Homo sapiens: one gene and its partners. The protein of the gene in region 5 purifies or fractionates together with the protein of the main gene of each other region. This does not show direct contact. Each region holds a gene or a part of one and is shown on either strand. Other genes may lie near its edges. The genes, in order: COX4I1, FAM8A1, ACAD9, CISD1, VDAC3, ACOT9 and BCAP31.

The links.
Region 1: the proteins of VDAC3 (region 5) and COX4I1 fractionate together in Homo sapiens (co-fractionation; 2 studies listed by BioGRID). This does not show direct contact.
Region 2: the proteins of VDAC3 (region 5) and FAM8A1 purify together in Homo sapiens (affinity purification with mass spectrometry; 2 studies listed by BioGRID and IntAct, with this or other methods). This does not show direct contact.
Region 3: the proteins of VDAC3 (region 5) and ACAD9 fractionate together in Homo sapiens (co-fractionation; one large-scale study listed by IntAct). This does not show direct contact.
Region 4: the proteins of VDAC3 (region 5) and CISD1 fractionate together in Homo sapiens (co-fractionation; one large-scale study listed by BioGRID). This does not show direct contact.
Region 6: the proteins of VDAC3 (region 5) and ACOT9 fractionate together in Homo sapiens (co-fractionation; one large-scale study listed by BioGRID). This does not show direct contact.
Region 7: the proteins of VDAC3 (region 5) and BCAP31 fractionate together in Homo sapiens (co-fractionation; one large-scale study listed by BioGRID). This does not show direct contact.

The regions. Positions count from the first base shown.
Region 1 is NC_000016.10:85,798,495-85,802,494, reverse strand, and holds the start of COX4I1 (cytochrome c oxidase subunit 4 isoform 1, mitochondrial isoform 1 precursor), read right to left. Parts: upstream 2,801-4,000; 5' UTR 2,743-2,800; exon of another isoform or gene 2,628-2,742; coding exon of another isoform or gene 2,611-2,627; intron 2,219-2,610; exon of another isoform or gene 2,173-2,218; intron 1,312-2,172; exon of another isoform or gene 1,291-1,311; coding exon of another isoform or gene 1,290-1,290; coding exon 1,217-1,289; intron 1-1,216. Other genes in the region: EMC8 (ER membrane protein complex subunit 8), read left to right, coding at 3,200-3,430. UniProt on the Homo sapiens protein: Component of the cytochrome c oxidase, the last enzyme in the mitochondrial electron transport chain which drives oxidative phosphorylation.
Region 2 is NC_000006.12:17,603,087-17,607,317, reverse strand, and holds part of FAM8A1 (protein FAM8A1), read right to left. Parts: intron 2,413-4,231; coding exon 2,289-2,412; intron 1,445-2,288; coding exon 1,305-1,444; intron 1-1,304. UniProt on the Homo sapiens protein: Plays a role in the assembly of the HRD1 complex, a complex involved in the ubiquitin-proteasome-dependent process of ER-associated degradation (ERAD).
Region 3 is NC_000003.12:128,896,272-128,900,502, reverse strand, and holds part of ACAD9 (complex I assembly factor ACAD9, mitochondrial), read right to left. Parts: intron 4,068-4,231; coding exon 3,967-4,067; intron 2,872-3,966; coding exon 2,793-2,871; intron 1,217-2,792; coding exon 1,042-1,216; intron 1-1,041. UniProt on the Homo sapiens protein: As part of the MCIA complex, primarily participates in the assembly of the mitochondrial complex I and therefore plays a role in oxidative phosphorylation.
Region 4 is NC_000010.11:58,285,431-58,290,086, reverse strand, and holds the end of CISD1 (CDGSH iron-sulfur domain-containing protein 1), read right to left. Parts: intron 2,527-4,656; coding exon 2,437-2,526; 3' UTR 501-2,436; downstream 1-500.
Region 5 is NC_000008.11:42,394,357-42,398,587, reverse strand, and holds part of VDAC3 (non-selective voltage-gated ion channel VDAC3), read right to left. Parts: intron 3,505-4,231; coding exon 3,455-3,504; intron 1,911-3,454; coding exon of another isoform or gene 1,908-1,910; intron 1-1,907. UniProt on the Homo sapiens protein: Non-selective voltage-gated ion channel that mediates the transport of anions and cations through the mitochondrion outer membrane and plasma membrane.
Region 6 is NC_000023.11:23,725,788-23,730,018, reverse strand, and holds part of ACOT9 (acyl-coenzyme A thioesterase 9, mitochondrial isoform a precursor), read left to right. Parts: intron 1-4,231. UniProt on the Homo sapiens protein: Mitochondrial acyl-CoA thioesterase. Catalyzes the hydrolysis of acyl-CoAs into free fatty acids and coenzyme A (CoA), regulating their respective intracellular levels. Regulates both mitochondrial lipid and amino acid metabolism.
Region 7 is NC_000023.11:153,703,888-153,708,118, forward strand, and holds part of BCAP31 (B-cell receptor-associated protein 31), read right to left. Parts: intron 208-4,231; coding exon 72-207; intron 1-71. UniProt on the Homo sapiens protein: Functions as a chaperone protein. Is one of the most abundant endoplasmic reticulum (ER) proteins.

The DNA of each region.
Region 1 (4,000 bases), on a different chromosome or scaffold from region 5:
GAAGACTTGTCTAAGAGCCTGCAGTTCGTCTTCATCTGCCTCCTATGTGCTGGAGATACGGCAATGAGTAAGACAGGCAGGCTCCCTGGCCTCAAAAGGCTTACACTCTAAGAGGCTGAGACAGCAATACTCAAATAGACATGCATTCATGAGGCATCCAGTGTTATAAGGAAAAGCACAGCAAGGTGAGGTGACAGGGAGCTTCCTGAGAAAGGATGGTCAGGAGAGGCCGTTCTAAAAGCACATTTGTATCGAGGGTGAATGATTAGACAGGAGCGACCACCCACAACTCGGGGCTCTACGGGAGGAATGGAGTAAGGCCAGGGGGCTGGGGCAGTGAGCAAGTGGGGATGGGTGGTTCTGATGGTAGTTTTTGGGTTTTGAGTACAACAGTCAGTAATAAGATCGGAAAGGCAGGCAAGACCAGCTCTAACCAGGCAGGGTGTAGACTCTACTAAGGCAATGAAAAGACCCTGGAGAGTTTCCTCCAGAAGCCTTCCCTGAAACCCACATCGGGCTAAATGCTTCTACCCAGGAGCCATCTCTTAATAAAACACTGTCTTCACCCATCCGTCCCTCTTCAGATTGCAAACAGCCTCCTGGAAAGTGTGTGTATTTCATATTCTTTTTCTTCTCGGTGCCTAACAGTGTCTGGTACAAAGTAGATAGACGCCAGATACATGCAAAAGTAAATGTGCTGTATGCCAGACACAGAACTAAGCTCTGTCCATATACTTCAGGTGAGCAAAGAGATTCCTGAGCTTCAGTAGCTAGTCCTTGATAGAAATGAGATGAAAACCCAGCTCAGGCTAGGAAGTCCAGGCTCTTTCGTTTCCATTGCCTCTATAATGTAAACAGAGGTGATGCAAATGGTTGGGAGTTGTGGGGGCAAGGTGGGGAGGGAGGTCATTAAGGTCAGTCAGTTATGGTGCAGAAGATCTTTTGAAAGGGGTAGATCTCGAAGCTTAAAAAAGTGGAACGGAAGGGAAGGGTAAGTGGGGAAGTATCAGTATAACCAAAGATCCAGAAGAGATTCAATTTGACTTATAAACACTTCTTAATCTAGAACCAAGCCCTGTGAGAACATTTATATCTCCCCTAAAGACCCTCAAGAGCCGAATTAAGGTCTTTAAAACTCCAGCACAGGGCTTTATACACAGCAGGAGCAAAATGAAATTAGTTCAGCCTATTTAAAAGTAAGAAAAGTCACACTTACCATGAGCTCGTACACACACAGAGGTGGAAATTGCTCGCTTGCCAACTAGGCTAAATACCCTGGTAGCCAACATTCTGAAAGATAAAAATGTACACCTTCTCTATGAATAAGGACAAACAGCAAGGAATTAGTCTTCTTTTTGCCCCAGAGCATTTTGGAATTTTTTTGTTTGCTTCTCCCCAACGCAAATGATCCATTCTTTATCACTGTCTCTGAATTCACAAAATGACCTAGGATGAGGTTTTTCTTAGTAATTGGCATGCTTTTAAGGAGCTTCATTATAAATCAACTGCCATAATATATACGCGCTTCAGGTAATTAACAGAACATTGGTCTTTTTAAAAAAACAAGGAGAGGCCGGGCGCGGTGGCTCACGCCGGTAATTCCAGCACTTTGGGAGGCCGAGGCGGACAGATCACCTGAGGTCAGGGGTTCAAGACCAGCCTGGCCAACATGGTGAAATCCCGTCTCTACTAACAATACAAAAATTAGCCGGGCATGGTAGTGGGCGCCCGTAATCCCCGCTACTTGGGAGGCTGAGGTAGAAGAATCGCTTGAACCCGGGAGGTAGAGACTGCAGTGAGCCGAGACCGCACCACTGCACCCCAGCCTGGGCAACCAGAGCAAGAGTCCGTCTCAAACAAAAAAAGGCAAGAAGAAAAAATGCTAACAAGGTGACTCTGAAAAAGCTAGAGATCATTAAAGCACTGTGCTGCCGTGACAGACTCCATTCTTCAGGGAGCGGTGGGGGGAGGTGACAGCTCACAGGGACCGTGGCACGCATCACATTCAACTGAGTGTTTAAAACCTAATACCGCCTGTACATAGACTAGAAGGGGAAATTGGAGAAGGCTGCCAACACAGCCCCGATCAATTTCCAATCCCTGAGGAGAGCGGAAAACCTATGAGACCCCCCCTCACCCGGGCCCTCCTCTATTCAGGCCCATCAACCTTACACGGCCCCCTTTAAATCGACCCTTCGGAGGACTGGTGAGAGTGATGTGGGGAAATACCCTCCTTGGGGCAGAATAAACAAGCATGACGTCAGGGCTGAACGCCCGCGTCTAGCTTCTCTCCTTGGGCCTAGCCCTTGCGTGAGCAAACAATAGGCGCCTTCCAGGCTGGAAAGCCGAGCGCCGCCCGGGAGCCCCGCAAAACCCGGGAGGGGTTGCACAGGGACCTTTTGAAGGAGCAAGGGCGGAGGCTGCAGGCACAGAGCGCGGGCCCGCCTCCCCGCAGCCTGAGCCCTCGGCCAGCGGGCGCTCCAAGGTCAGTGCCCGAGGCCGGTCCGCAGCCGCTGCGAGACCGGGTAAGATGGACCGGGCACTTCGGGGCGGCCCCCCGAGCCTGGAGCCACCGAGCCCGGAGTCCCCACGGGCCGGCCTCAATGTCACCTGGCTCCGAGGCCCATTCGGTGCTTCCTGCTGAAGCCGAGCGGCCAGGCTGCGGACGTGCAGACTTGATGGCTCCCGGCCCCCCGACCCGGCCCGGCCTGGCGGCGCCGCACCGGCCACCTCCTGTCTCACCTGCCGCCACTGCCCGCCGCGACCGCCCTCTACACCCGGTGTCCCGCGACCGGAAGAGAGCAAGGCCGCGCCGCGGAGCACCACGGGATCGAGGAAGACTCCGCCCGCACCCGGCCGCACGGAGGTCACCGTGGAGCGGAAAAGGGTAGCGCTGCGAACGTCGTAAAATGCCGGGCCGGGCTGCTTTCCGGCAGGCGTTGGAGAGGCTGCTTTCCGGCGGCGCCGGGCGAGAAGCGCGACTGGAGTCTGGGGCTGCGGCTTCCCAGAGGCGCGAGTCGCTTTTCCAGGAGCCGAGGCCCAAACGGGGCCGGGCCTGAAGGGTCCCCCGCCAGCCCGCGGCCGCGCCATCAATCGCCGCCGCCTCGTCCCGCTTCTCGGCTGAGGCGCCGCGCGGCCAGGCAGCGGGTCCAGGCCTCAGCCGCGCGCCCAGGGGCCTCCGGGGCCCTCCCGGGTCAGCATGCCCGGGGTGAAACTGACCACCCAGGCCTACTGCAAGATGGTGCTGCACGGCGCCAAGTACCCGCACTGCGCCGTCAACGGGCTCCTGGTGGCCGAGAAGCAGAAGCCGCGTAAGGAGCACCTCCCCCTGGGCGGCCCCGGCGCCCACCACACCCTCTTCGTGGACTGCATCCCCCTCTTCCACGGCACCCTGGCCCTCGCCCCCATGCTGGAGGTGGCTCTCACCCTGGTAAGCGCGGAAAGGGCCCCTTCCCCTTGCAGGCAGCCTGGCCTCCCCTCAGTCAGCAGAGAGGAAGCTGGCCCAGCGGTCGCCCTCCAGCAGGCTCCTAGGACCCGCTCCCTAGGGTTGCCGTGGCCAGGAATGGGGTGATCCACGATGGCGCTTGGGTCTTGGCGCTGAATAAATAGCGTCCCGTAGTAGCAGCGACTTTAACCGTCGTGGATGCTTTTAGAGGCACTTTAAGGCGACGAGTTATACGTTAGTTTCCTGAAATCAGTAGCCTTTGTAGAAACAAGTCATCGTTCACTTGGTGGGGATTCGACAGAGTTTCCCTTGAGGATTTCGAGTTGCAGGAAGTGTTCACGTTGTTGGGACATTAATCGCTAGGATTTGGTTCTTCGCACCTTCGCAGAGCCGATTCCTTATCTGGCAAAGTGTAAATGCTTCTTTGGCTGTCGGTACTCGGGCACCCCGGAGCTCAGACACTTGTAGAAAGGTAGTTGCATGGTCAGATCTGTGTGATGCATCTTAGGCCTGGCTCCCCTTGATTGAATGTGCCTGAGCTTTGTGTAAAGAGAA
Region 2 (4,231 bases), on a different chromosome or scaffold from region 5:
TATTAAAAGAAGTAGGTAGGTTTATAACTACCAGTTTTGTTTTGTTTTTTTTTTTTTTTGAGATGGAGTCTTGCTCTGTCGCCCAGGTTGGAGTGCAGTGGTGCAATCTCAGCTCACTGCAAGCTCTGCCTCCCGGGTTCATGCCATTCTCCTGCCTCAGCCTCCTGAGTAGCTGGGACTACAGGGCCCGCCACCACGCCCGGCTAATTTTTTGTATTTTTAGTAGAGACGGGGTTTCACCATGTTAGCCAGGATGGTCTCGATCTCCTGACCTCGTGATCTGCCCACCTCAGCCTCACAAAGTGCTGGGATTACAGGCGTGAGCCACTGTGCCCGGCTATAACTACCAAATTTTAAGAAAAATTTGAAGATGGCAAAACCAAGGTTTCTAGAATCACTTGTTTATATTTCTTGATGTAACAATCCAGCTCTGAATCATTCTGGCAAAAATTGCAGCCAATACCTTGTTTGGCTCAACTGACTACCAGCCACTGACCTCCACAGTTTCCATTATCACTGGTTGTACCTTCCCCCAGCGCTAGATGCCAACAGCTAACCTTGAATACTGGCAGTATTACAAGCTCTCACCTAACAGCAGGAGAAGGATGCACGAATGCATAGCTGTCAAAACTCTGCTGCCTATTCAAGATGGAATAATGACAGGCATGGCCAAATGGAGACTCAAGGCAGACTAGTACCTGACCTAACATCCACAGGTCCAAAGAATAATAAAGCTGATTGTGGAGCACTAATACACCATCAACACCCAAATCATCCTCTCGTATTGTGACTTATAATTCATAAAATGATCATCTTGAGGCAGGGCATGGTGGCTCACGTCTGTAATCCCAACACTTTGAGAGGCGGAGGCGGGTGGATCATGAGGTCAGGAGATCAAGACCATCCTGGTTAACACGGTGAAACCCCGTCCCTACTAAAAATACAAAAAATTAGCCGGGCGTGGTGGCGGGCACCTGTAGTCCCACCTACTCGGGAGGCTGAGGCAGGAGAATGGCGTGAACCTGGGAGGCGGAGCCTGCAGTGAGCCGAGACTGTGCCACTGCACTCCAGCCTGGGCAACAGAGTGAGACTCCGTCTCACAAAAAAAAAAAAAAAAAAATCATCTTGAAAATGTGTACTGTAAAAGAGGTCTACAATCATGTAACACAACTGAAATAAATATTCAAACTTTGTTTTAACTTAATAAATATAAGCCTATCTACTATGAAGAAAAAAACCCCAATATTCTAAAACACATTATTTTCATTAAGTATGTAGTAGATTAAGCTAAGAAAAGGACTTACGTTGTAATGCTAACATTTGAGGAAGGAATCACTAAAACCCGACTTGGTGCAATAAGCACTGATGTATCACATGTCACAACTCGAAGCCCCAGCAGGAACTTCCCTGGGGTAGCTCCACCTGCTCCCCAAATGCAAATTATCTAAGGAAAGAAGGATGATTTAAAAATTACTGGCTCAACTATACCAATTTTAAAGATAAACTTTTCCCACCATATTATTTCATGTTTTAAATTTTTCAAGTTGAAAGAATTGCATAGAATACTCAAAAGTTAACCATTTAACTTTATGCATTTCTGTAGGTCTCTAACATGTCCAATACCACAAGATGTCTGTCTCCTGTAATATTTCTCTATGACTACTATACTTTCTAGTAAGCTGCTTCTGCAGAAAACTACATTGCAATTTACAAGTATATTTTTGGACCACAATCTATAAGTGAAATTTTATTTGAGTTTCTAAGACTGAAAAATATTACAAAGAAATTGTAAAATGTCTCTCTTCCAAAAGTTTTTACTTAATGATTAGTTAAAATTTGGGAAAAAAAACAGAAAAGTAGACATGTGGAAAAGACATGAATAATTATAAATTTCGATTACTTTTTCGTCTTGGGCTGATAATCTAAAATTAGATTGTTGGCTAGGTGCAGTGGCTCATGCCTGTAATCCCAGCACTTTGGGAGGCCAAGGTGGGCAGATCACTGAGGCCAGGAGTTTGAGACCAGCCTGGCCTACATGGCAAAACCCTGTCTCTACTAAAAATACAAAAATTAGCCAGGTGTGGTGGTATGCACCTGTAGTCCCACCTACTCAGGAGGCTGAGACAGGAGAATCACTTGAACTCAGGAGGCAGAGGTTGCAGTGAGCCAAGATCACACCACTGCACTCCAGCCTGGGTGACAGAGCGAGACTCTGTCTCAAAAAAATAAATGTAAAAACATAAAATTAGATTGTTAAATATTAATTCTTGCTGAAGTCAGTAGCTTACCTCATAGAAACAAACTAATAATCTGTATATAAGTGCCACAACCATCATTTTCTGCAAGTCTTCCATTGATGTGTCTTCATCTATTTCTTCTATTATATAATGCATAGCAAACTTAGAGATATCCCTACACAAAATAATAGTTTGGGGTTATAAATAATTAGTTACCAGAACAGTAGCACTGACTTTTTTTTCATTAGTGCAAGTCATACATTTTAATTGAAATTCTAAACTAATCTTTAGATTCCCAACCATCTAGTATCATAAAGCATTCATTAGTTTATTCAACAAATAAGCAGCATTATCATGAGCAGACACTGTACTAGCACGGGGGAAATAAGGGTGAATGAATTTACACGGTCCCTGCTTTCGTGGAGGGTCTAACCTAGCAAAGAAAACAGAACAATAAATAAATAGCAATAATAAAGTGGGATGAGTGCTGTGATGGGGAACCTAGGATACTATGGAAACATACACCAGATACACTTAACCTTGTGAAGGTTTCCCAGAAAAGACAGTTAGATGAGGCTCTGAAGGATGAAGAGAAGTTAGCCAGACTAAGAAGAGGAAATAACGTTCCAGAAAGAGGGAACAGCAGGAGAGAATGTCTTGGAGAAAGAGAGAATATGATAGAAGCTGTAAGCAGTTTGGTGTGGCTCATATACTAAATGTGAGAGGTGGCAGTGATTAAGAAATAAAGGCAGGGTGTGGTGGTATGCACCTGCAGTCCCACCTACTTGGGAGGTTGAGACAGCCTCCTGAGTATAAACCACATGATGAAATTCAGACTTTATCCTGCTGGTAAAGAGAAACCATTGAAGGGGCTGAGCATGGTGGCTCACGCATGTAATCCCAGCACTTTGGGAGGCTGAGGTGGGAGGATCGCCTGAGCCTAGGATTTTGAAAGCAACCTGGGCAACACAGACCCCATCTCTAAAAAAACAATAAACATTTTAAAAAGAGAAACCATTGAAGGGTTTTAAGGTAGGAAAGGAACAGAACCAGGATTTATGATCACTTTGGTTTTATATCAGAGACTGGATTGAGATAAAACAGGAGACTGAGTTACCACTAGAAGGCTTCTGCTATAATCCAAGCAAGAGACGACAGTAATCGGAGTAGGGAGAAGCAATGATGATAAAAAATGGGCCAGGTGTGGTGGCTCATGCTTGTAATCTCAGCACTTTGGGAAGCTAAGGCAGGAGGATCATTTGAGCCCAGGAGTTTGAGACCAGCCTGGGCAACATAGGGAGACCCCATCTCTACAAAAAACAATTTTTTTTTTTAATTAGCTAGGCATGGTGGAGCATGCCTGTGGTCCCAGCTCCTTGTGAGGCTGAGGTGGGAGTGTCACTTGGGCACAGGAGATCAAGGCTGCAGTGAGCCATAATTGTACTACTGCACTCCAGCCTGGGTGACAGAGCAAGACTCTGTCTCAAAAAAAGAAAAATGATCTGGCAGTGAGGAGGTCTGGGGTTGAAAGCTATTCAGAAAATTGAACATAAAGGAGTTGGTATTTCACTGGATGTGGAGTGGAGTGAGAGGGAGGGACAGGGAGGAATCACAGTAACAGGTTTCTGGCAAGGACCCTGAAATTTGACTGCACAGGCTTGTATCTTGACTCTGTCACTTACTACCTTTGTAACATTTTAGGTTCTGTGCTCAACTTTTCATAAACCCAAATTTCAAACTCTATAAAATGGTGGTATTAATCTCTACACCTCATCTTGGTATTAAGATTAAATAAGAATCCACATAAAGAAGTGAGCAAGCTCAATACATGGCATATAGAAAGTACTCAGGAAGTGGTAACTGCTATTATGATTATTGTTAATCTGGAAGGATTACTCAAATAAACGTCTCACTTTGAAGTTCACTTGGGACTTGCCCCACAGTATGTGCAATCCCATTTGGAAATGCCATCTAGTTGATTATTAATTCACCTA
Region 3 (4,231 bases), on a different chromosome or scaffold from region 5:
ACTTTGGGAGGCCGAGGTGAGCGGATCACGAGGTCAGGAGATCGAGGCCATCCTGGCTAACATGGTGAAACCCCATCTCCACTAAAAAATAGAAAAAATTAGCCGGACGTGGTGGCAGGCAGCTGTAGTCCCAGCTATTCGGGAGGCTGAGGCAGGAGAATGGCGTGAACCCGGGAGGCGGAGCTTGCAGTGAGCCAAGATAGTGCCACTGCACTCCAGCCTGGGCGACAGAGCGAGACTCCGTCTCAAAAAAAACAAACCAAAAAAAAGTGGCCAGGTATGGTAACTCACACGTGTAATCCTAGCACTTTGGGAGGCTGAGGCAGGTAGACTGCCTGAGCTCAGGAGTTCAAGACAAGTCTGGGCAACATGTTGAAACCCCATCTCTACAAAAAATACAAAAATTAGCCAGGTGTGGTGGTGCACGCCTGTAGTCCCAATTACTTGGGAGGCTGAGACAGGAGAATCACTCGAACCCAGGAGGCAGAGGTTGCAGTGAGCTGAGATCACAGCACTGCATTCCAGGCTGGGTGACAGAGGGAGACTATGTCTCCCACGGCAAAAATAGTACTTATATGGCTTGGCTTGGCCCCTTAGGTGCTTATGATCTGCTCTAAGAACAAGCCTCCAGATGGACCTGAACCCAGATGGACCTGAACCCAACTCACAGCCTGAAGCAGGCTGCCAGGCACTGCAGACTGAGACAACTAAAGGCTGGGGACTGTAAGCTGAGCTCTAAGGTGGTGTGTCTGCTAGGGCAGCTACAGCAGGGGATGACCAGCAGGCCTTCAAGTGAGCAGCACTCAGCTGCAGGAACAAAGACAAAGCCCAAGTGGCATTCTTAATTTGATCTTTTTAAAATGCTTAACAAAAACTGAAAGTGTTTAAATCTCATTTTATCTTGCTATTTGGACAGAGTCAAGGGCCAGTCTCCCCCTTACACACACACACACACACACACACACACACACACACACACCGTCAAAGGCCAGTCTCCCCCTTACACACACACACGCGCACGCGCGCACAGGAGCTACTTACTGTTGGAGCCCCGAATGCCTAATTTATCTTCGGGTTTCCCATTAGTGACTCCACCAAAGTCTCTTTCTACTATGAATGCTGTGATTTTGTCTTTCACTGATCCATCAGAATCAACGACCTCAGTCTTTGCAAACACAGTAAAAATATTGGCCAGTCCTCCATTAGTAATCCAGACCTGAGGACAGAAAGATGGACTTTGGAGAAAACCAAACCCCTATGTGACCCACCTCAGCTCTGTCTTTGTCCATCAAGCTCCAGCTGCCAGTCAGACCTCAGGCCAGACATGCAGGGTCCTTGGCTCTGCAGAAGCCAACCAAGCATGAGTGAATAGAGGACAGGGCTCAGCCCACTTTCCCCAGAGCAAGGATTTTCCCAAGGGACATGGATGGCCAGGTGGAGGCGGGGGCGGGGGAAAGAACACCCAAAGTTGTCAGACAGCTCAGGCTCCACCGCCAGACAACTGCATTTCTTCAAGAAAGAAAGGGTTTAATCATTTCTTAAGGTATACATATATAAAAACATCATGTTGTAGATGTAAATACACACAACATTTATTTGTTAATTCTACAAAGAAATGAAAAAAGGCGGGAGGGTGGTGAGGAGGAGGAAAGGAAACAGAGGGAGACAGAGGCAGAAACAGACTCCTTAACAAACAGCAACAGATGGGACTTGTGTGGATCTTAATTCAAGCAAACAGTTAAACCAAAAAAAGGTATGAGGCAATCAGGGATATTTGAATGCTGATAGAAGTAAGAAATTATTAGCTGGGCACAGTGGCTCACGCCTGTAATCCCAGCACTTTGGGAGGCCGAGGTGGGCAGACCACTTGAGCCCCGGAGTTTGAGACCAACCTGGGCAACACGGTGAAAACCCATCTCTACCAAAAAAAAAATACAAAGAGTTAGCTGTGTGCCTGTACTCCCAGCTGCTTGGGAGGTTGAGGTAGGAGAATCACCTGAGCCCAGGAAGTTGAGGCTGCAGTGAGCCAAGATCGTGCCACTGCACTCCAGCCTGGGTGACAGAGCGGGACCCTGTCTCAAAAGAAAAGAGAAATTATCAATTTTTAAAATGTGATAAGGGTATTACGGCTTTGTGTTTATTAAAAAACAAAAACAAACAAAAAAAACTCCTGTCTTTTAGAGAGGCATGCTGAGATTGTTACCATGCGATCTGGAGGTGGCGATGCTGCTGGAAGAGGCACAGTGGCCATAAGCAGGTGACTGCCGGAGTTAGGGCCAGCCAGGCACACAGAATATGTCTGAAACTTTGTGTAACAAAAAATTTAAAGATTTTTTGGGTTTACAAGCCGGGCACAGTGGCTCATTGCCTGTAAACTCAGCACTTTGGGAGGCCGAGGTGGGCAGATCACTTGAGGTCAGGAGTTCAAGACCTGACTGGACAACATGGTGAAACTCCATCTCTACTGAAAATACAAAAATTAGCCAGGAGTGGTGACACGCACCTCTAATCCCAGCTACCCAGGAGGCTAAGGCAGGAGAATCATTGGAAACCTGGGAGGCAGAAGTTTCAGTGAGCTGAGATTACACCACTGCACTCCAGCCTGGGTGACAGAGACTCCATCGCAAATAAAAAAAACTAAAAAAAATTAAAAACAAACACATAAAAGCAGCTCAAGAAGGTAGTCGGTGCTACAGCAGCAGGTACAATCCCTGGTGTGTGGAGAGTGCTCACTCAGTGGCAGTGAAGGTTGTGACTGAGACCCTAATGTGGCCATGGGGAAGGAACCCTACCTTGGAGCCATTGAGGATGTAGTGCTTCTTGTCTTCACTTAGTGTGGCTCTGCTCCGGATTGAGGCTGCATCGCTCCCACTGCAGATGCAGAAAGATGTGGTCAAGGGAGAATACTGGGAATAAATATGAATGCTTTTGAGGGCCTGAAAATGGAGGTTTTAGTACTTGTAAGAGGTCAGCAAACTTTTAAAATGAAGGGTCAGATAACATATTCAGCTTTCCAAGCTGCAGGATGTCTGTCTCACCTCCTCAACTCTGCTGCTATTAATAGAACATGAGGCTGAGGCAGGTGGTTCACGAGGTCAAGAGATTGAGATCTGGCCAACATGGTGAAACCCCGTCTCTACTAAAAATACAAAAATTAGCTGGGTGTGGTGGGGCATGCCTGTAGTCCCAGCTACTCGGGAGGCTGAGGCAGAAGAATCGCTTGAAGGCGGAGGTTGCAGTGAGATGAGATTGAGCCACTGCACTCCAGCCTGGGTGACGCAGCAAGACCCTGTCTCAAAAACAAACAAACAAAACTTATTTATAAAAAACAGGCAGGAGGCTGGATTTAGCCGACCTCTGCTTCAATACATCACGTAAAAAAGCGGCAGTGAAAACAACTTGGGCTTAGGTTTAAACATGGAAATGGGTGCTTGCAATGGGCTCATCTGAGGTCCTGTGAGGATGAGTTCTGGGCACCCCAGGAAGGATGACTGTTCCCAGGTTCTCATGCAAAGTGAAGCAGGATGGAGGATGGTCCAGGTGATGGACTTATCATCAGAGTCCCGAGTGCTGCCGCAGCCCTGCTCCATCCAGCAGATCACACAGCCTCACTGAACCTCAGCTCCTAATGTGTAAGTGGGAGCAGTACCACCCACGCTATATATTCTGAAAGGTGCTTTGAAGCCGGAACGTTATTACTATATTGTATGTCAAGGTGTGTTGTAAACCACAAAAATTTATTTAATAAGTGCTGTCAAGCGTGGTATCTCACTTGCAAGTCTCACTGGGACAGAGAAATAAGGTCAAGATAAGAGGAATGGCAAGAACAGTTGCTGAGTTGATTCTTTGCAAGATTTTGGAAAGAAGGAAAAGTCAGCTACTCAACAAAACCAACAGCCCCTTGCCCCAGTGAATCTTGGGCAACATCACAGCTGCTGAGGGATAACGTTTTGTGCAGAGACAGACCTGGCTGGCTCCGTGAGGCAGAAGGCTGCAATGTGCTCCCCGGACGCCAGTTTAGGCAAGTATTTGGCTTTCTGCTCCTCAGTGCCAGCCAAGATGATCCCCTAAACAAAACAGACACAGACTAATGTCAGCTGTGGGGAGAAAGGAGAGCATGAGGTGTTTGTGAAACATTTCCTTTCTGAGGCAAATATTTACTTCGGGCAAGAGAAGACAGCAAGAACTCAGAGCAAGCGGCCACAGGCAGAGCCCAGGGAGCCAAGCTGCT
Region 4 (4,656 bases), on a different chromosome or scaffold from region 5:
CTGTGTGTTGCTAATCAGAAGCTATAGTCAATGCCTATCTTAAAGCAAAACCAAATCAAAAACCTCCCTAACTAATGTAAAATCAAAAAATCTCACCTACTTTGTAGGAGAAATAGTAGGTATACATGGTTGTAGCTGTTTTTGTCAAGAAAGTAAATCATAAATTATCATAATTATATAACCTATGCCATAAATAGTGTGAGCTTCTAATTCTCCAAAATGTTTCTCTGTCTCAATTATATGGTCTACAGATGCCTAATAAATGTCTGTTGCATGAACAGATGAACAAGATTTTTCACATTAGAAACTTCTCAACCTAGTACACTCTTCAGAAATAACTAGAATATAAATGACATAGAGAAAAAAAAGATGAAAGCCCCACTTGTCTTGCCTCAACGAAATGAAAAGCACTTAGAAGCATTAAGGTGCTTAGCTAGAACAGTAATTGCACACAATGATTTTTGTGTAAAAAAATCTCATATTAACCTAACCACACTCACTTTGGTTTTTAGGTCAAATAACCTGAAAAGGGTTTTAATCATAAATGAATGCTAGTTCAAAAGCATGTAAACATTTTAACATGACCTTGAAAATACATTTACCTAATTATTTTGGCCTTTCAAAATGCTCAAGATCTATATTTCACAGTAAGGTGGTCATTTATAATTTTGCCATATGTATACACACACTCATATAATCCTATAGTTTTGAGAACTGGTACCAGGTTCCCCCTGACATTACAAAAATGCATGACTAACAATATAATTTCAAATTCAAGATAAAGAATAGTCTGTTAAGTTAGAAGGATGTCCCTTTATCAGAAACACTGGGAGTTGATGCATTTATTTTTCTTTAAAACAGTTCATCTTTAAAAGCATGATTGCTCTGTTTTGCTGACATGCATACTTATCTTAAAAAGAAGGAGGTGGGCAAAGAAAAAATTTACCCTAAGAATCTAATAGAATCAGTTTGTAGGATTTTAGATTTTATGATGAATATGTGACTTAAAGACATGTCCAAGTTAGTTACATGGGCTTCTTAAAACCACTGTACAATTTTGTTACCAACTTTTATCTACAGTAATACACAAAACTACATATTTAAAAATAGCCATGATCATATATTACATAGGATATGCTGCTGTCAGGTTTGATTCCTGTCAAGGTAAATGGATTTTAGCAAGTAGAAATTTGTGATTGACTACTACTGAGAATTCATGTATACTAAAATAAATGATGATGTTTACCTGCTTTATCAATTTCAATTGTTTGCCCAATTTTCTGTAAATTTTGCCATGATTTTCCTTCTAACCTATGAAATTCAAAAACCTAATCTCTTTAAAAATATTTATGAACTATTTGTCTTAAATCTTTTATTGCTAATTATTTTCAGTTTTTATATTTTCTTTTTTCTGAATCAACAATGAATGCAATGTTTCTGCTCGGAGTCTTTGAAGAATATTACATAAACAAACACTTGTCTTCAAATTTTTGCTTTTAAGAAAAAGATCATACAATTTAAAAGCCATGTGCTTGATTAGCTAGAGTGGGAAAAAAAAAAATCTTCCCACGCCTTTGATCTAATCTTGTGACTACTATTTCTGTCAGGATATGTGGCTTAGTGATCAAAAGACTTGACATTATATGTTCCAATTCCTTCAAAATCCTCAGTTCAAGTGCTTACCATTCCTTGGGCCAGAATTCTGGAACATTAGATTTTAAGACATTCTTCATGACTAATTTAAATCTAATATCACCTTTAACTAAATTTTCACTATTGGCTCCTTTAATGGATCCATCTTCATTAAATATCTGTGAAGATAAATATGAGGAAGTTACCACCCCTTTATTATTGACCTGACTTATGAAATTAAACAGAATAACATTTATCAATCATTTTGATTGAAAACGGTGAAAAACAGAAGCCATATTTTCTCAGTGTCATTACCAATGTCAAGAAAATCAAGGCTACAACAGGTCTTTCCTAGATTGTATTAAGAAATTAATGTAGCTGAATCACATCCTATTTAGTTTCCAGGTCAATATGAAAAGATGGTAATTTTTCTTTGAAACTTACAAGTACAATCTGCAAATACATAATTTTGAGAATAATTTAATATGTTGACTTCAAGATACAACTATATTCTATATAAGGTACAACTCTATATGTCAGTATTTTAAAGAAATGGATCCTTACAAGACCAAAATAACCCACAGGCCATGCAGGTTGGTTTTTCCTTTTTTTTTTTTTTTTTGTTTAAACAAATGTGCACCACGATGTTTCAACAAGACAAATGCCATAAATGTGAAAGCTGCAGTTTGCAATATACCACATTTAGAATCCAGCGAAGGTGAATCAGACAGAGGTGGTAGTCATTCTAATTAAACAATCAGGTAACTTCACGACAAGCTGATTTGCAGCATCAAAAGTGTCCATTTAAGTTTCTTTTTTCTTGATGATCAGAGGGCCCACATTGTCTCCAGTCTCTTCGTTATGTTTTGTGTGAGCCCCATCACAGAATGGGAACTAGGAAGAGAAAGAATGAATGTGAAACATCTAATCTCAAAATCAGTATTATGCTCGGCAGAGTGGAAGGTGATGCTTAATTCATATAACATAAAGATTTTCTTGGCTATCTTATATAGGCTTTCTTAAACAGCATATGTAAACTACATATGCTACTTAGTAAGATGAAGAAATTGACTTGTGCATAATACACACATCATTTATTGAATTTCAGTGTGATTGTGATGAGTGTTGAAGGCCTTTCTTATGTTTATATATTAGTTACATTCCTTTCTAGTGAACATGTCCATTGCCTATTTACTTCTAAGAGTTTAAGTTCATTTATTTAAAATCAATTTGCGGCCAGGCGCGATGGCTCATGCCTGTAATCTCAACACTTTGGGAGGTTGAGGTGGGTGGATCATTTGAGGTCAAGAGTTCAAGACCAGCCTGGCCAACATGGTGAAACCCTGTCTCTACTAAAAATACAAAAATTAGCCAGGCATGGTGGCGAGTGCGCATAATCCCAGCTACTCAGGAGGCTGAGGCTTGAACCTGGGAGGGGAAGTTGCGGTGAGCCGAGATTGTGCCACTGCACTCCAGCCTTGGTCTCAAAAAACATAAAAATAAAAAATAAAAAATAAATCAACTGCATATTATTCCTCTGTTATTTTTGCAGCAGTCTTTCCCAAATCTTTTCATTTTGCTTATTTTTTCATATTCTCAATTTCTCCACTTTCATACAAATATGTCAATATCTCCCTTTTTAACATCATTCATGGAGACAGCTTTCTTCTAGAGATGTGAGAAATACAAATTTCCATTCATTTTCATGAATTCACATTTTAGATATAACTGCTGTTTTGGTGTCCAGTGGGAGGGAGAGGGACAAAACTAAATTTCTAACATAGTGTTTTGCAGAGTGTGGTCCAAAGAACCTGAATCCTGCAAGACACTCTGATTTGGTTTCATTCTGTGTTAAAAAAACATATCATATAGCCCATTTGAATCACAGCACACATTATTTTAATTTTGCTATAAAAAACACAATTTTATCCCAGAGTTTCTCAAGGTGACTGGACTATGGACACTTTAAATTTTGATTTCTATTATCATAGTTTTCTGTAGAGCACACTTTGCAAACGCTGTTCTAAGATCCTGTTGCTTCAGCATTACTGGAGGCTATTGCTTCCCACATTATTACCTTTATTCGTAACTTTATCAAAATAAATTCTACATGTAAAAGCACCTATTTATAGGTTCTATGTTACGTTGATCGGCCTACTACGCTGGGATATTTGCATTTTAAACATTTCAGTGTTTTGTAGGGCTAGTTTTCCTTCATTGTTTCTTTTTTTTACTTTTTTTTTTTTTTTTGAAACGGAGTCTTGCTCTGTCGCCCAGGCTGGAATGCAGTGGCGCGATCTCGACTCACTGCAAGCTCCGCCTCCTGGGTTCACGCCATTCTCCTGCCTCAGACTCCTGAGTAGCTGGGACTACAGGCGCCCGCCACTACGCCCGGCTAATTTTTTGTATTTTTAGTAGAGACGGGGTTTCACCGTGTTAGCCAGGATGGTCTCGATCTCCTGACCTCGTGATCCGCCTGCCTCGGCCTCCCAAAGTGCTGGGATTACAGGTGTGAGCCACCGCGCCCAGCCTGTTAACTTTATTAAACTTTATCACTTTATTCCTCCAGATAAGCTTGAGAATGTTTTTTGCCAAGTTTTAATTTCTTTTGTAGTTTTCATCCTCAGATCTCATGTATATTCTGGTAAGATTATTTCTGTCATATTTTTAATCACTATTATAATTTATTTTCATATCTGAACATTCTTGCTATATAAAATCATTTTTAACAAGTATATCCTCTATTGTAAAATGAAAAAATAAGAATTTAATAATATTTCACTTAACTCTTCAGGATTTTACACTTAGAAGGAATAATTATCAGTAATTTTTTTGTTTCTCTATATTTGTATCTTTTATTTCTATTTCATGTCAAATGACAAGAGCTAGCATCTTTGCCTTAATCTTGGTGTTTTGAATGTATCTACACTCTAGAATCTAGAGTTTCACTGTTTAGTCTAAGGTACACTGTTGCTTTGAAGAAGCCTATTTAGAAGAGTAAAGTAAGAGGATTCTTAGCCTTAT
Region 5 (4,231 bases):
GAGCAACTTCTTTCCTCCTTTCCCCTTGCTTTTCCAGTCCCTAAATATTTTAACCAGTTCTGCCAGGCGCAGTGGCTCATGCCTGTAATCCCAGCATGTTACGAGGCCAAGGCGGGTGGATCCCTTGAGTCCAGGAGCTCAAGACCAGCCTGCGCAACATGGCAAAACCCCATCTCTACAAAAAATACAAAAAATTAGCCAGGCATGATGGCACGTGACTGTAGTCCCAGCCTGAGCCCAGGAGGCAGAGGTTGCAGTGAGCCGAGATCATGCCACTTCACCCTAGCCTGGGCAACGGAGTGAGACAGCTCAATACCAGTTTCAGATCTTTCCATTACTCTACTTCTCTTATTAATATCTCTTGTTCCATATACTCTCTTACCAAATGGTAATCCTAAATTCTCTCCTTTAAAAAAGAAGTATCTTTACTGAAAACAAATGCCTTTACTAAAAAGACCAAAAATATTGTATCTTAAACATTTTACTTTCATGACCTAAAAAAAGATTATCAGTTCTCTGCTATATGTTTCAAACTATCAGTTAATTTCAAGGTCCTTAAAAATCCCAAAATACTGCCCTCCTCCTTTTTAATAGGGTCAACACTTTACTACTTCCTTTTAAAAATGTTTTTTTTTATTGTGGTAAATACATGTAACATACATTTTACCATTTTAATAATGTTTTAAGTGTACAGTGAAGTGGCATTAAGTACAGTCACACTGCTGTGAAAACTTTAATGCTTTTGTGTGCAAAACTGCAAAACTTCTGCTTAGACAATTTCAATATTTGAAAGTACTACCCATTTTTCAAAATAAAGTAGAATGCTATAATTTATCCTTCTTTCCCCCTTTCTATCCTGTCTACCTTTAAGAGTGCTTTCTATCAAACAGTTACTATGAATGAGACTCTGTCTCAAAAAAATAAAATAAAATAAAATACATCCTTTGCCCTAGTTCAGTGCCCTTTAAGTCATATGACAATAAGCAATTAGAAATGGACCTCCTTCTGGGGAAAGCAGACAGCACCTGTCACTGACAATCTATGAACTGTCAAGAAAAAACATTCTGATTGGTCCTGTTTTAGGGAGCATTTCTGAAATCCTGCCAACAGTAATGAGATGCTGCCAACCCTGACCAGTCTTTTTCACTGCCTGCAACATGAATCCTCTCCTTAACAAATGCCCTGTCCCCTAACTCTAGTTCTACAGGCAGATGAGACAACTGGGAAGTTATGTTCTGTTTATCAAACCACACAGAATGGTTTCAAAGAGAGTATCATGCTGCACATTTAGGGGAAGGCCTTAGTAAAAAAAAAATGATAACATGTTAATCATGTTTAACTGTTCACATAATTATTTTAACGTGACAATCATTTTTCTTTTAGTAGATCCAACTATCTAGTGTTTTATTTTTTACATTTACTTTTCACAAACTTGACAAGTATAACAAATGCAAATCTTAATTTTGGTGCTAGAAAAACCTTATGCACAAAATTAAGGTAGAGGGGTAGTCTACATTTCTCCCTTGTCAGCATCAATTCTTAGTTTGAAGGTCTGTCACGAATCTAAAATGCCACAGGTACAAATCTCAGAAAAAAAGGCTAGAATTGTTCTAAGTTGAGTTCCAGGCTCACGATTCACAGTTCAGTTTGTGTCTAATTTCATAATTTGGTCAAACAAGTGCAAAACACATTTATAACATGCATATAACATGCATATAGCTCTACATTAAATGCTTAGTAAGCAACAAAACAAACAAAAATGTTACTGTTAAGTAGATAGCATATGAGAAAAATATCAAGACACAATCTAAGAAATTTGGAACAATGATTGAAATTTATCCTAAATCAATACCAGAAACCAAAAGCAGCCATAAAAACAAGCATACGAATAAGCTTTTTTTTCTTACCATCTGAATGAATATTACCACACAACAGCAGCATGAAAGGGAGATAAAATTTTAGTTGATAATTTTTGCAACACAAACCTAATGAGCAAATTCTGGAACCTACACAAAATGAGAATGATTCTTCTATTTTAACAGAACTATATACACAGCGTGCCCATCTTAGTAAGGGAGGTGCATATATATTTATTTACTCCAGAGAAACCCAGGGAAAGAATGATGGTCACAAACCATGATTATACACAGTATCATTAGAATTCCACATGTCTTTGTCCTTCTAATTATACATTCAGAAATAAAATTTTCATGGGTTTGAATGGATAAATACCAAAAACGATGCAGCCAATGAGGAGAAATCAGAGTAAGGTAAATTAAAACTTAACCTACTTGCTGAGATTTATTAAATAAAAGCAATTTTTTCTGAGACGGAGTCTTGCACTGTTGCCCAGGCTGGATGGAGTACAGTGGCACGATCTCTGCTCACTGCAACCTCTGCCTCCTGGGTTCATGCCATTCTCCTGCCTCAGCCTCCCAAGTAGCCAGGACTACAGGCACCCGTCATCAGGTCTGGCTAATTTTTTTGTATTTTTAGTAGAGACGGGGTTTCACCATATTAGCCAGGATGGTCTCAATCTCCTGACCTCGTGATCCGCCCGCCTTGGCCTCCCAAAGTGCTGGGATCACAGGCGTGAGCCACCGCACCTGGCCTTTTTTTTTTTTTTTTTAAGACAAAGTCTCACTCTGTCACCCAGGCTGGAGTGCAATGGCTTGGTCTCGGCTCACTGAAACCTCCACCTCCCAGGTTCAAGAGATTCTCCCGCCTCAGCCTCCCGAGTAGCTGGGACTATGTGCGTGCCACCACACCCAGCTAATTTTTGGTATATTTTTAGTAGAGACGGGGTTTCAGAATGTTGACCAGGCTGGTCTCGAACTCCTGACCTCATGACCCGCCCACCTCGGCCTCCCAAAGTGCTGGGATTACAGGTGTGAGCCGCTGCACCCAGCCAAAAGCTATTGTTAATGATACTTTGAAAATATGCCAACATAGCCTTTACTGTAGTCTTTACTTCCAATAAAAAAAACTTTATAAACATCAGTTAAAAACTGTAGAATAATGTACATGCATACGTGCAGAAATACATTTTATTTACATATTTTGTTTCGACTAATCATGAAGGGGCAGAGTAAAGTTAATTTGTTTTTGTAAAAGGGTAATAAAATTTCCATGAACCCATTATCATGGAAGTGAGGTTTTTGGTGCCCATATACATATTCATGAAAGTATAAACATATGACATGGGTCAAAAAATATATATTCTACATCTTCTGAGTGAAAGCTGTAGTATACTCTGAGAAACACAAAAGGTCTCTTCAAAAATTCAACTTGGTTGTTTATTTTAATTGGCTAAGAATGCTGTTTAAAATCTGAGAGGACAAAGCTGTGGGGAAGACAGCATGGTGCTGGTTCAAGTAACTAGACTGTCATGATTTTAAACAGATTCCTTTAAGTTAATTATGTTACATTCATTAAAAATATATTAGATACTCACCACTCCACTACAAGACTTGGTTTTCAGGTCTATCTTGACCATGCCAAAGCCTATACACACACACACACAAAAACACAGTAATGTACAAAATGTGACATTCACTAGTTTTTGCAACTCAGAAATTATGAAATAGCCTATAGTACCTTCCATATGAAAAATGCATAGTATTTTCATTGGGTGAGAGTTCCTCAAGAAACTGAATTATAACCAAATAAATGCAGTATAATTTTCAAGCACTCAAAATGAATAAAGATATACTTTTAAAATGTAAGTTAAAGAAAAAAATAAATGAAAGGAATATGCACTATTCCAAGAATCAAAATTGCTGAAAATAGTGTGCTGCTATATATATCGTTTAAAATATAGTTAACATTACTAGTTAATAAGAAAAAATCAAATATGTACAGCACATAAATTTAAGTTAAATTTTAAAACCTAAAAAATATTTATTTAGGATCAGAATATACATTACTCCAAAGAAGTCAAAAGTTATGTTGTCACTTTCATAAAAACAATGCCACTGTTTGGAGGGAGGAAAAGTTCTACCCCCTAATTTAATTGTCCTCAGGGCCAGACAAAGAGACATAAATGTTATATATATTATTCTACATTCCAGATAACATTAAATATGGACATGTATATGCATCTGTATATGTATATAATTGCTTTTAATGCTTGTAAGGGGTTCTGCCTCTAAAGAATGAGGTCTAATAGCCTGTTAATAGTTATCCCCTTAAATCTTGTGAAGTGGAATAATGCTGACTTACCCTTATTTTA
Region 6 (4,231 bases), on a different chromosome or scaffold from region 5:
TGAATAATCTTTCTTACTAGTAACTTTAAAAAAAGAAAGTCTTAAACTTACAGAAAAGTTGCAAATACAGTATAAAGAATTTTTCTGTGGCCAGGCGCGGTGGCTCACGCCTATAATCCCAGCACTTTGGGAGGCTGAGGCAGGCAGATCACAAGGTCAGGAGATCGAGACCATCCTGGCTAACATGGTGAAACCCCATCTCTACTAAAAATACAAAAAATTAGCCAGGCGTGGTGGCATACGCCTGTAGTCCCAGCTATTCAGGAGGCTGAGGCAGGAGAATCACTTGAACCTGGGAGGTGGAGGTTGCATTGAGCCGAGATCGCGCCACTGCACTCCAGCCTGGGCGACAGAGTGAGACTCCGTCTCAAAAATAAAAAAGAAAAAAATTTTTTGTCCCTGAATTATGTGAGAATAAGTGGCTGACATGATGCCACATCACCCCCAAATATTTGAATATGTCTTTCCTACAAACAAGGACATTCTTCTACATAACTACAAAACAACCATAAAAAATCAGGAAATTAACACTGATGTGTCATACTGTCTAATCCTCAGGTCCCATTCAACTTTTGCCAGTGGTCCTTCATAGCAGAAGGATCCAGTTCTGAATCATATGTTGATTTAATTGTCATGTCAGGACTAGTTCCTTAATCTTTCTTTGACTTTCGTGACTTTGACATGGTTCTTTTGTGTATTGTCCCTCAATTTGGGTCTGTGTGGTGCTTCCTCATGATTAGCTTTGGGTTATGCATCTCTGGCAGGAATGTCACAGAAGGGATGCTCTGTTCTTATTGTATCCTATCAAGTGGTGCATGGTTTTGATTTGTCTCATTACTGATGATATCAGCTTTGCTTACTGGATGACGATGATGTCTGCCACTGTTCTTCACTGTAAAGTTACTCTTTTCCCCTTTGTAATTAATAAGTACCTTATGTGGGGGGGGGTGGCAGGTAACTTTGAGACCTTCATCAGACTTTCAATTCATTATTTTTAAATCAGTATGGACTCAGGAATTCCTATGTTACTGAATGGACTATAATATGTTACTATCATCTATTTGATGTTCACATGATCCCAGGAGTGTCCCAGTCCCTTCAGGCTAGCTTCTGTGTGGTTTTCTTTGATGTGTCCCCATTATTCTTTGAGCACTTTCTCACTTTCTGGCACAATAAAATATTCTAGGCTCATCTTATGCTTTTCCCTGCCCCAGTCCTAGAATCACCCACATCTCCAAGGAGCCCTTTTTTGAAATGGAGAATGATATTTTGAAGTGGAGGATGATATTTTGAAATGGAGATATGTGCGTTGGGAGTGGTCATTATTCCTGGGTATCACTGCTCCCATACCCTCTTAGTGGAGGAGCTGGGAAATATATGTGCATATACGTACATATATGTTATTTCTAAATCTTTGTACAGATGTATGTATGAAAACCATGGGATCGCACTGATAGCTCCAATTCCAGTTCAGCCACCACGGGGTTCATTCTCATTTCCTTCCTTTCCATATTTGTAATTCCCTTCTCCAACTGGCTCCATTCTCCTTAATATATTGACTTATTTAATCAGTTCCGCTGTATGTGACCAATTTCCTATGGCTGCCACCCCTCATGCATCATGGATGCTCCCCTCACCTTACCTGGGCTCTGGTACCCCACACCAGGTCCCCCTCTGCAGGCTCACCCTCTTCATTGTGCTCAAGCTGTGACATGCTCTGCCATCACTCTTGCAGCCTCTCTGCAAGGATGTCCTCCTCACCGTGCTTGGATGCCAGCACCCTACTCTAGGTTACCTTACTTGCTCCCACCTAATGATATTTGGGCTGAATGGTTGGGAAAGGGTCTGAAAAAGGGTTCTAATATATTGTTTAAAAAACTATTTTTTTATAGAGATGGGGTCTCCCTGTGTTGCCCAGGTTTTTCGTGAACTCCTGGGCTCAAAGGATCTTCCTGCCTCAGCCTCCTAAAGTTCTGATTACAGGTGTGAGCCGCCGTGCCTGGCCTTTTTTTTTTTTTTTGAGACAGAGTCTCACTCTTGTTGCCCGGCCTGGAGTAGAGTGGTCCGATCTTGGCTCATTGCATCTTCTGCCTCTGGGTTCAGGCGATTCTCCTGCCTCAGCCTCCTGAACAGCTGGGATTACAGGCACCCGCCATCACATCTGGCTAATTTTTGTATTTTTAGTAGAGACGGGGTTTCACCATGTTGGCCAGTCTGGTCTCAAACTCCTGACCTCAGGTGATCTGCCTGCCTCGGCCTCCCAAAGTGCTGGGATTACAGGTGTGAGCCACCATGCCAGGCCCTAACTTTTAAAATATAGATACAAGCTTGTTGTTAAGCTTACGCCTAGCAACTACTTTTCTCTAGATTAAATAAACCCAGTTAAAAATTCTTGGCTGGGCACAGTGGCTCACACCTGTAATCCTTGCACTTTGGGAGATCGAGGCAGGAGGATCGCTTGAGGCCAAGACTTTGAGACCAGCCTGGGAAACATAGTGAGTCCCCATCTCTACAAAACCCAAAAAATTAGCTGGGCATGGTGGCATGCACTAGTAGTTCCAGCTACTCAGAAGACTGAGGTGGGAGGATTGCTTCAGCCCAGGAAGTCGAGGCTGCAGTGAGCTGTGGTGACACCACTGCACTACAGCCTGATTGACTTTGGTTTGCTTAGGTGTCCTTATATATACAAACTCCCCTGCCACTACCCTCTTTCTTGCTCATTAACTTCTGTTGATGGCCAGTCCCTTTAACCTGTTCACTTGATTCTATTCCTTCTATTTCTTCAAGGAACTGCCTTATCACTTGGCTTTCTCCCTCATTTCCTGAGCCTTTTCTCAACTTCACTTTTCCCTCAAGTTATAAACATATTCAAGGTTCTTCCATCTTAAAATGAAAAATAGGCCGGGCAGGGTGGCTTACGCCTGTAATCCCAGTAGTTTGGGAGGCCGAGGCGGGTGGATCACTTGAGGCCAGGAGTTCGAGACCAGCCTGGGCAATATGGTGAAACCCCGTCTCTACTAAAACTACAAAAAGTAGCCGGGCGTGGTGGTGCGTGCCTGTAATCCCAGCTACTCGGGAGGCTGAGGCACGAGAATCGCTTGAGCCTGGGAGGCAGAGGTTGCAGTGAGCTGAGATAGACTCCAGCCTGGACAACAGAGCGAGACTCTGTCTCAAAAACACAAAAATTAGCCGGGTGTAGTGGCATGTGCCTGTAGTCCCAACTACTCAGGAGGTTGAGGCAGGAGAATGGCTTGAACCCGGGAGGTGGAGGCTGCAGTGAGCTGAGATCGCACCACTGCATTCCAGCCTGGGTGACAGAGTGAGGCTCTGAGTCAAAAAAAAAAAAAAAGATAAGTAAAAAATCCTCTTTCCTTATAACACCTCACACTTTCTTCCTTACTTCATAGCTCACTTTCTGAAAAGAACCTAGAAAATCACCTGCTCTCATTGCCTCTTTATGCTAACTTCCTGTTAATTAAACATTTCCCGGTCGGCTGTGTTCCGGCTTCTGCTCCTCCACGCCATTGAATCTGCTCTTGCCAAGCTCGCCATTGGCCCCTTTACTGCACAGTTGAATGGATACTTTTCAGGGCTGACCTGACCCCTTTGTGGCTTCTTATATCGTCCAGCCCATCCTTGGGCTTTGGTGACATTTCCTTCTGCTTCTCTGGCTGCTCTTTTGTAGTCCCCTTTGTAGGTTCCTCTTTTTCTGTTGATCCCTTAAATGTAGGTTATCCCCAGGGTTTTGTCTTCTGCCCTTTCAAAAACTGATTATTTTTTGAATTTATTTTATTTTATTTTGTTTATTTATTTTTTTTGAGCTGTAGTTTCGCTCTTGTTGCCCAGGCTGGAGTGCAATGGCGCTATCTCAGCTCACTGCATCCTCCATCTCCCGGGTTCAAGGGATTCTCCTGCCTCAGCCTCCCATGTAGCTGGGATAACAGGCACACACCACCACGCCCGGCTAATTTTTTGTATCTTTAGTAGAGACGGGGTTTCACCATGTTGGCCGGGCTGGTCTCGAACTTCTGACCTCAGGTGATCCACTCGCCTCGGCCTCCCAAAGTGCTGGGATTACAGACGTGAGCCACTGCGCCCGGCCTTTTGAATTTTATAATTTGTTCATATTAATTAAATTTTAAGGCATTTTAAAATTTAACAATAAAATTGTTAAATCTTTTAAAATTATTTATTTAGTTTTTGAGACAGGGTCTCACTCTGTCACCCAGGC
Region 7 (4,231 bases), on a different chromosome or scaffold from region 5:
GGCCCTGAAGAATGTGGCTCCCACAGTGTAACACCAGGACGCCCCATGGTGGGTCGGGAAGCTGGGCTCACCTTCTTGAGCTGGTCATTCTCCTCCATGTACTTCTTGGCCGCCTCACTAGCACTCTCCGCCTGCTTTTTAAAGGCTTCATTGGAGGCCAGCAGCGTGGCCTGCTGCGAAATGAGAGTCACCAGGCGTCTAAGCAGGCTGCAATTATTTACAAAAAGAAGGGAGAAGTGAGAAAAAGAGCATGAAGGGCTGGCAGGAGCACCTCCTGGTTGCTCCCACTCCACACCTAGCTCCAGCCTGGACCTGCCCTCTTGCCAAGGCAGCCGAGTGAGAAGCCGCCAACCTGGTGCTGGCAGCGTGAGGGAAAAGGTGGGGCCCAGGAGCCGTCCTCTGCCGCTGTGCCCAACGGCCACCCTCAGCTCTCAGAGGGGCTGGAAGCAGGAGCCTGGGGGGCTGGGAAGAGCCTCGCTACAGCATGAGGTCCCAGAACGCGGCACTTTCCGGGTCGGGGCCTAGACGTGCCAGACAAGCCACAGCACCACCTTCCTCCCTGCGAGGCTGGGCTTGCCTTGGTAAGGTAACGAGAGAAGCTAATCAATCCAAGCACTTCCAACATGCCAGGCCGCATCCTCACATCTACCTGATGAGGAAGTTACTATCACTGCCCCAGCTTATAGAAGAGGAAACTGAAGTTCAGCAGCGTAAATCAATGTACCCAAGGCCAAAAACCAGAAATGGACATGGCTGGAATTCCAAATTATGTCTGCCTGACTCCAGAACCTGAGCTCGGAACCACTCTGCTCTCTAAACTAACAGGGAACAGCTCCCAGGTCCCAACGTAAGATAGAACTCTCTTCTCTGGCCAGCCTCCTTCCCAACCCATCATGCAGGCTGCGCTGGAACACATCCGTTATGTAACAGCACCCCGAATGAGGTCTTCTTGGGCTGGAGGGTGTAGAGGAATCAGGACACAGGCGCAGGCTGCCTCTCTGAAGCAGCCAGGAGAGACAGGCAAACAGGTGGCAGCTGGAGGCAGATGCTAGTCCCCAAACAGAGATTGGAATGGCCACTTCATTTCCCTTGGTTCACCCTTGCCCCGAGATGTTAGCTGGCAGGAAGAGAGGAGGGAAGGACTCGTTCAAACAGTCAAAACAAGGCAGGGGTTCCTTTCTCACACACCTCAGAAGGCAAGGGTCACACAGGGCCTGGGGGAAGGAAGAGACAAATCTGCTTAGTCCAGAGTGCTTCAACAACAGCTTACTCAGAAGAGTCGAAGTGGCCTCCTGCCCCAGCCAGGCCTTCACACTTCACAGCCTCTGCTCATGGCCAGGGGCAGCCCGGAAGGGCTGGAGAAAGTAAAGAGCAGACAAGGTGAGCTACCTCCCTGGCCCAAGCCATGGCTCTCCAGGGCCTCGGCAGAGCCCCTTTCCAGATGTACTCAGGACAGAAAGTACCCACCCGGGCCAGGAGACACCCCTGAGGTTCCTGGTTTGGGGAGAGGCTCCCAGGGGCCCCTGGCAGCACCAGGAGAGCCAGGCCGTTGATTCCTGGCAGAGAAGGAGAGTTTCCAGTGACATGTGCTTTCTAAAATTAGCGGCCCAGGACCTCGTGGCCTAGGGCTCAGGTTTCCCTGCCTCAGCCCCCAGCTGCCCACCAGCCTGCCCCGCACTGGGCTACAGCCTGAAGGTGGAGGAAGCTACTGAGCGCCCTAGGAGCCAGAGAGAAACAATGCATCTGACTCACATCGGCATGGCCAGAAGTCAATGGAGAGGCCTAGAAAGAAAGGCAAGTCTGACTAAGACCCAGGCCCCCGGCAAGGAGCTGCCCAGCCCCAGAGCGGATCCCAGTGATGTAGAAAGAGGAAGAGGACCGCTCCTCCCAGCTGGAATTGAGGGGTGGGGGTCATGCCACCTGGTGGTAGAGAGAGGACCAAGCAAGACTGAAGGCTATACTCCCCGCCACCAGGCCAGGCAAGCGGCTGCTGGTGAGTGCCCATGGCTGTCACCCCAGTACCCAGGGAGATAGCTAACACAAATGCTTCCGCGGCAGTGCAGCAGAGGCCCAGCTCTTTTCGGACCGTCCCAGGCCCTTCCCGGCTATTGAGAACCAGGGCTTCCAAGATAGGCCAGGGCATACACAAAGTCCAGCGCAAGATCCACGCTGTGTGTGTCCGAAAGCCTGGCCCTGCTCAGCCCCAGCCCAGGCCTTCAGTTCCCAGCCTTGAGACAGTCTGGGGCTCCCCTCTGCCAGGCCCCGGTTCCCCTTCCTCTTGCCAACCCTCACAGGCGCTCCCCACCCCCACAGCACCCCGGGCATACTCCTCCCACTGCACCCCCAGCCCGATAGTTCTTTTTCACACCTTCTAGGTCCTCTCTCTTCCTGCTGGATGACCCGGGATCATTCTCCCCCCAGGAACCTCACCTTCAACTGCCTCCTTCCTGGAGTCACCCTGCCCAAGCCCCTGGTCTTTTCCCTCCCATATATTCCTCAACCTAGGCTGGCCAAGGCCTGCCCTTCCAAGCCAGCAGCAGGGCCACCAGTGGCCTCCTAACCGCCCAGGCCGGAGGTCACCCTGAACTCCTTGCTCTGCTGCTAAGTTACCCTCCTGAGGTCCCCTCGCAACACCCTCCTCCCACTGTTATTCTGCTCCCTCTGGGGTCTGCACTCTTCAGCTGACACCCTATACCTTCCTCCCAGCCACTCTTATCCCCGAAAGGGTTTTCTCTGTGGCCCAGACTCATACCTAACCTCCTGCTAAACATTGGCTCCTGGATGTCCCCAGAGACATTCTAGACTCAGCTTGTCCAAAACGGGCCTTCCCTTGTCCTGCCTGACCTGACCACCTCGTGTAGCCCCTGCTGTAGTGGTGGGCAGGCAAACCGCCTTGGACTCAGCCCTCTTGGCCCCCAGCCCAAGCCACAACCCAGCACTTTCCATGTCAACTGCAAACATGCCCACCATCATCCCCACTGCTGGCGCCTCCTCCCTATCTGCTGCCATACGGCTTTCCCATCCACCTCCCAGAGCAAGGCAAATCCGACCATGTCAGCCCTCTGCTTAAGCCACCTGCTGCCAGCACGCATGCCCTCAGTGAGCTCTCCTCCTTCACTAACCACGTGGCCCCCTGCTCTAGTAACACCTAACCCCTCACCATTCCTGGAACACGCCTGGCTCTGTGTGGCAGTTCTCCAGGCCGGAATGTCCTCTCGACCCAGCTCAATCCTCACCTCCCCCCAGAAACCCTTTTGGATCTCCCACCCCATCAGAGGGACGCCTTCTGGGGGCTCCTGCAGCAGCCCCCCAGGCACCCGCATGTAACTACCTCATTCTCTGTTCTCTGCGTGGCTGCCATCCGTTTATATGGCTGCCCTACCAGGCTATGAAGGTCTTTAGGCTGGGCACTGTGCCTTCATCTCTGCACTCCCATACCTGGCACACTGAAAAGGGGTCTTCCGCCCACTCCAGCAAGTATAGCTAAAAAAAAAAAGGGGGGGAGGGCGCGGGGCTGGGCTTCCAGATGACTGGATCCCACTCCCAGGAGAGGAAATGCTCCCTGACAGGTGAGGGGACAGATTTGAGGCTGCACGTAAGGCTGGACAGAATCTCCCTGGGCCTAGACTGCACCTGTGTTCACCTGGGAGCCTGGCACCAAGAGGGGCAGAGGCAGACACAGAGCTGCTCAGTCTAGCAACAGAGGAGACAGAAGACAGGAGTGGGAAGGCGCCGTCTCAGACCCGTTCTGATGGGCAAGCCAGGCTCATGGCTGCAGGGGGAAAAAACATTCACTGCCGCGACCTGAAGGCACAACCCAGAGCTCCAGCCTCTGCATCCTCACACCCTCAACCCCCACCCAGGGCCCAAGCAATGCAGACCAGGTCCTCTCTGATCACTGGCATTTTTCAGCCTGGGAGCCAGCCTTCTAGAACATTTTCCCGCTCCCTCACACTGGGTCACTCAGGCACGTTAACGTGCGCTTGTCTGTTCCCTTGTAGCTTCCCAGGCCCCCAGGACAGGGCACGAACATGGCCTTTAGCTTCTGCCTCTGCTGGATCTCCCAAGTAGTCTTACCCGAATCACTGTTCTTAGCTATTCATTTCCAGAAAACAGGAAAGAACCTAAGAGCCAAAGGCAACTCCTACAGATACAGGGTGGTCACCAATAGAATGGCCTGGGGTCCAAAAAAAGGCCAGTGAACGAAACTTAACAGAATCCAGATGTGGCC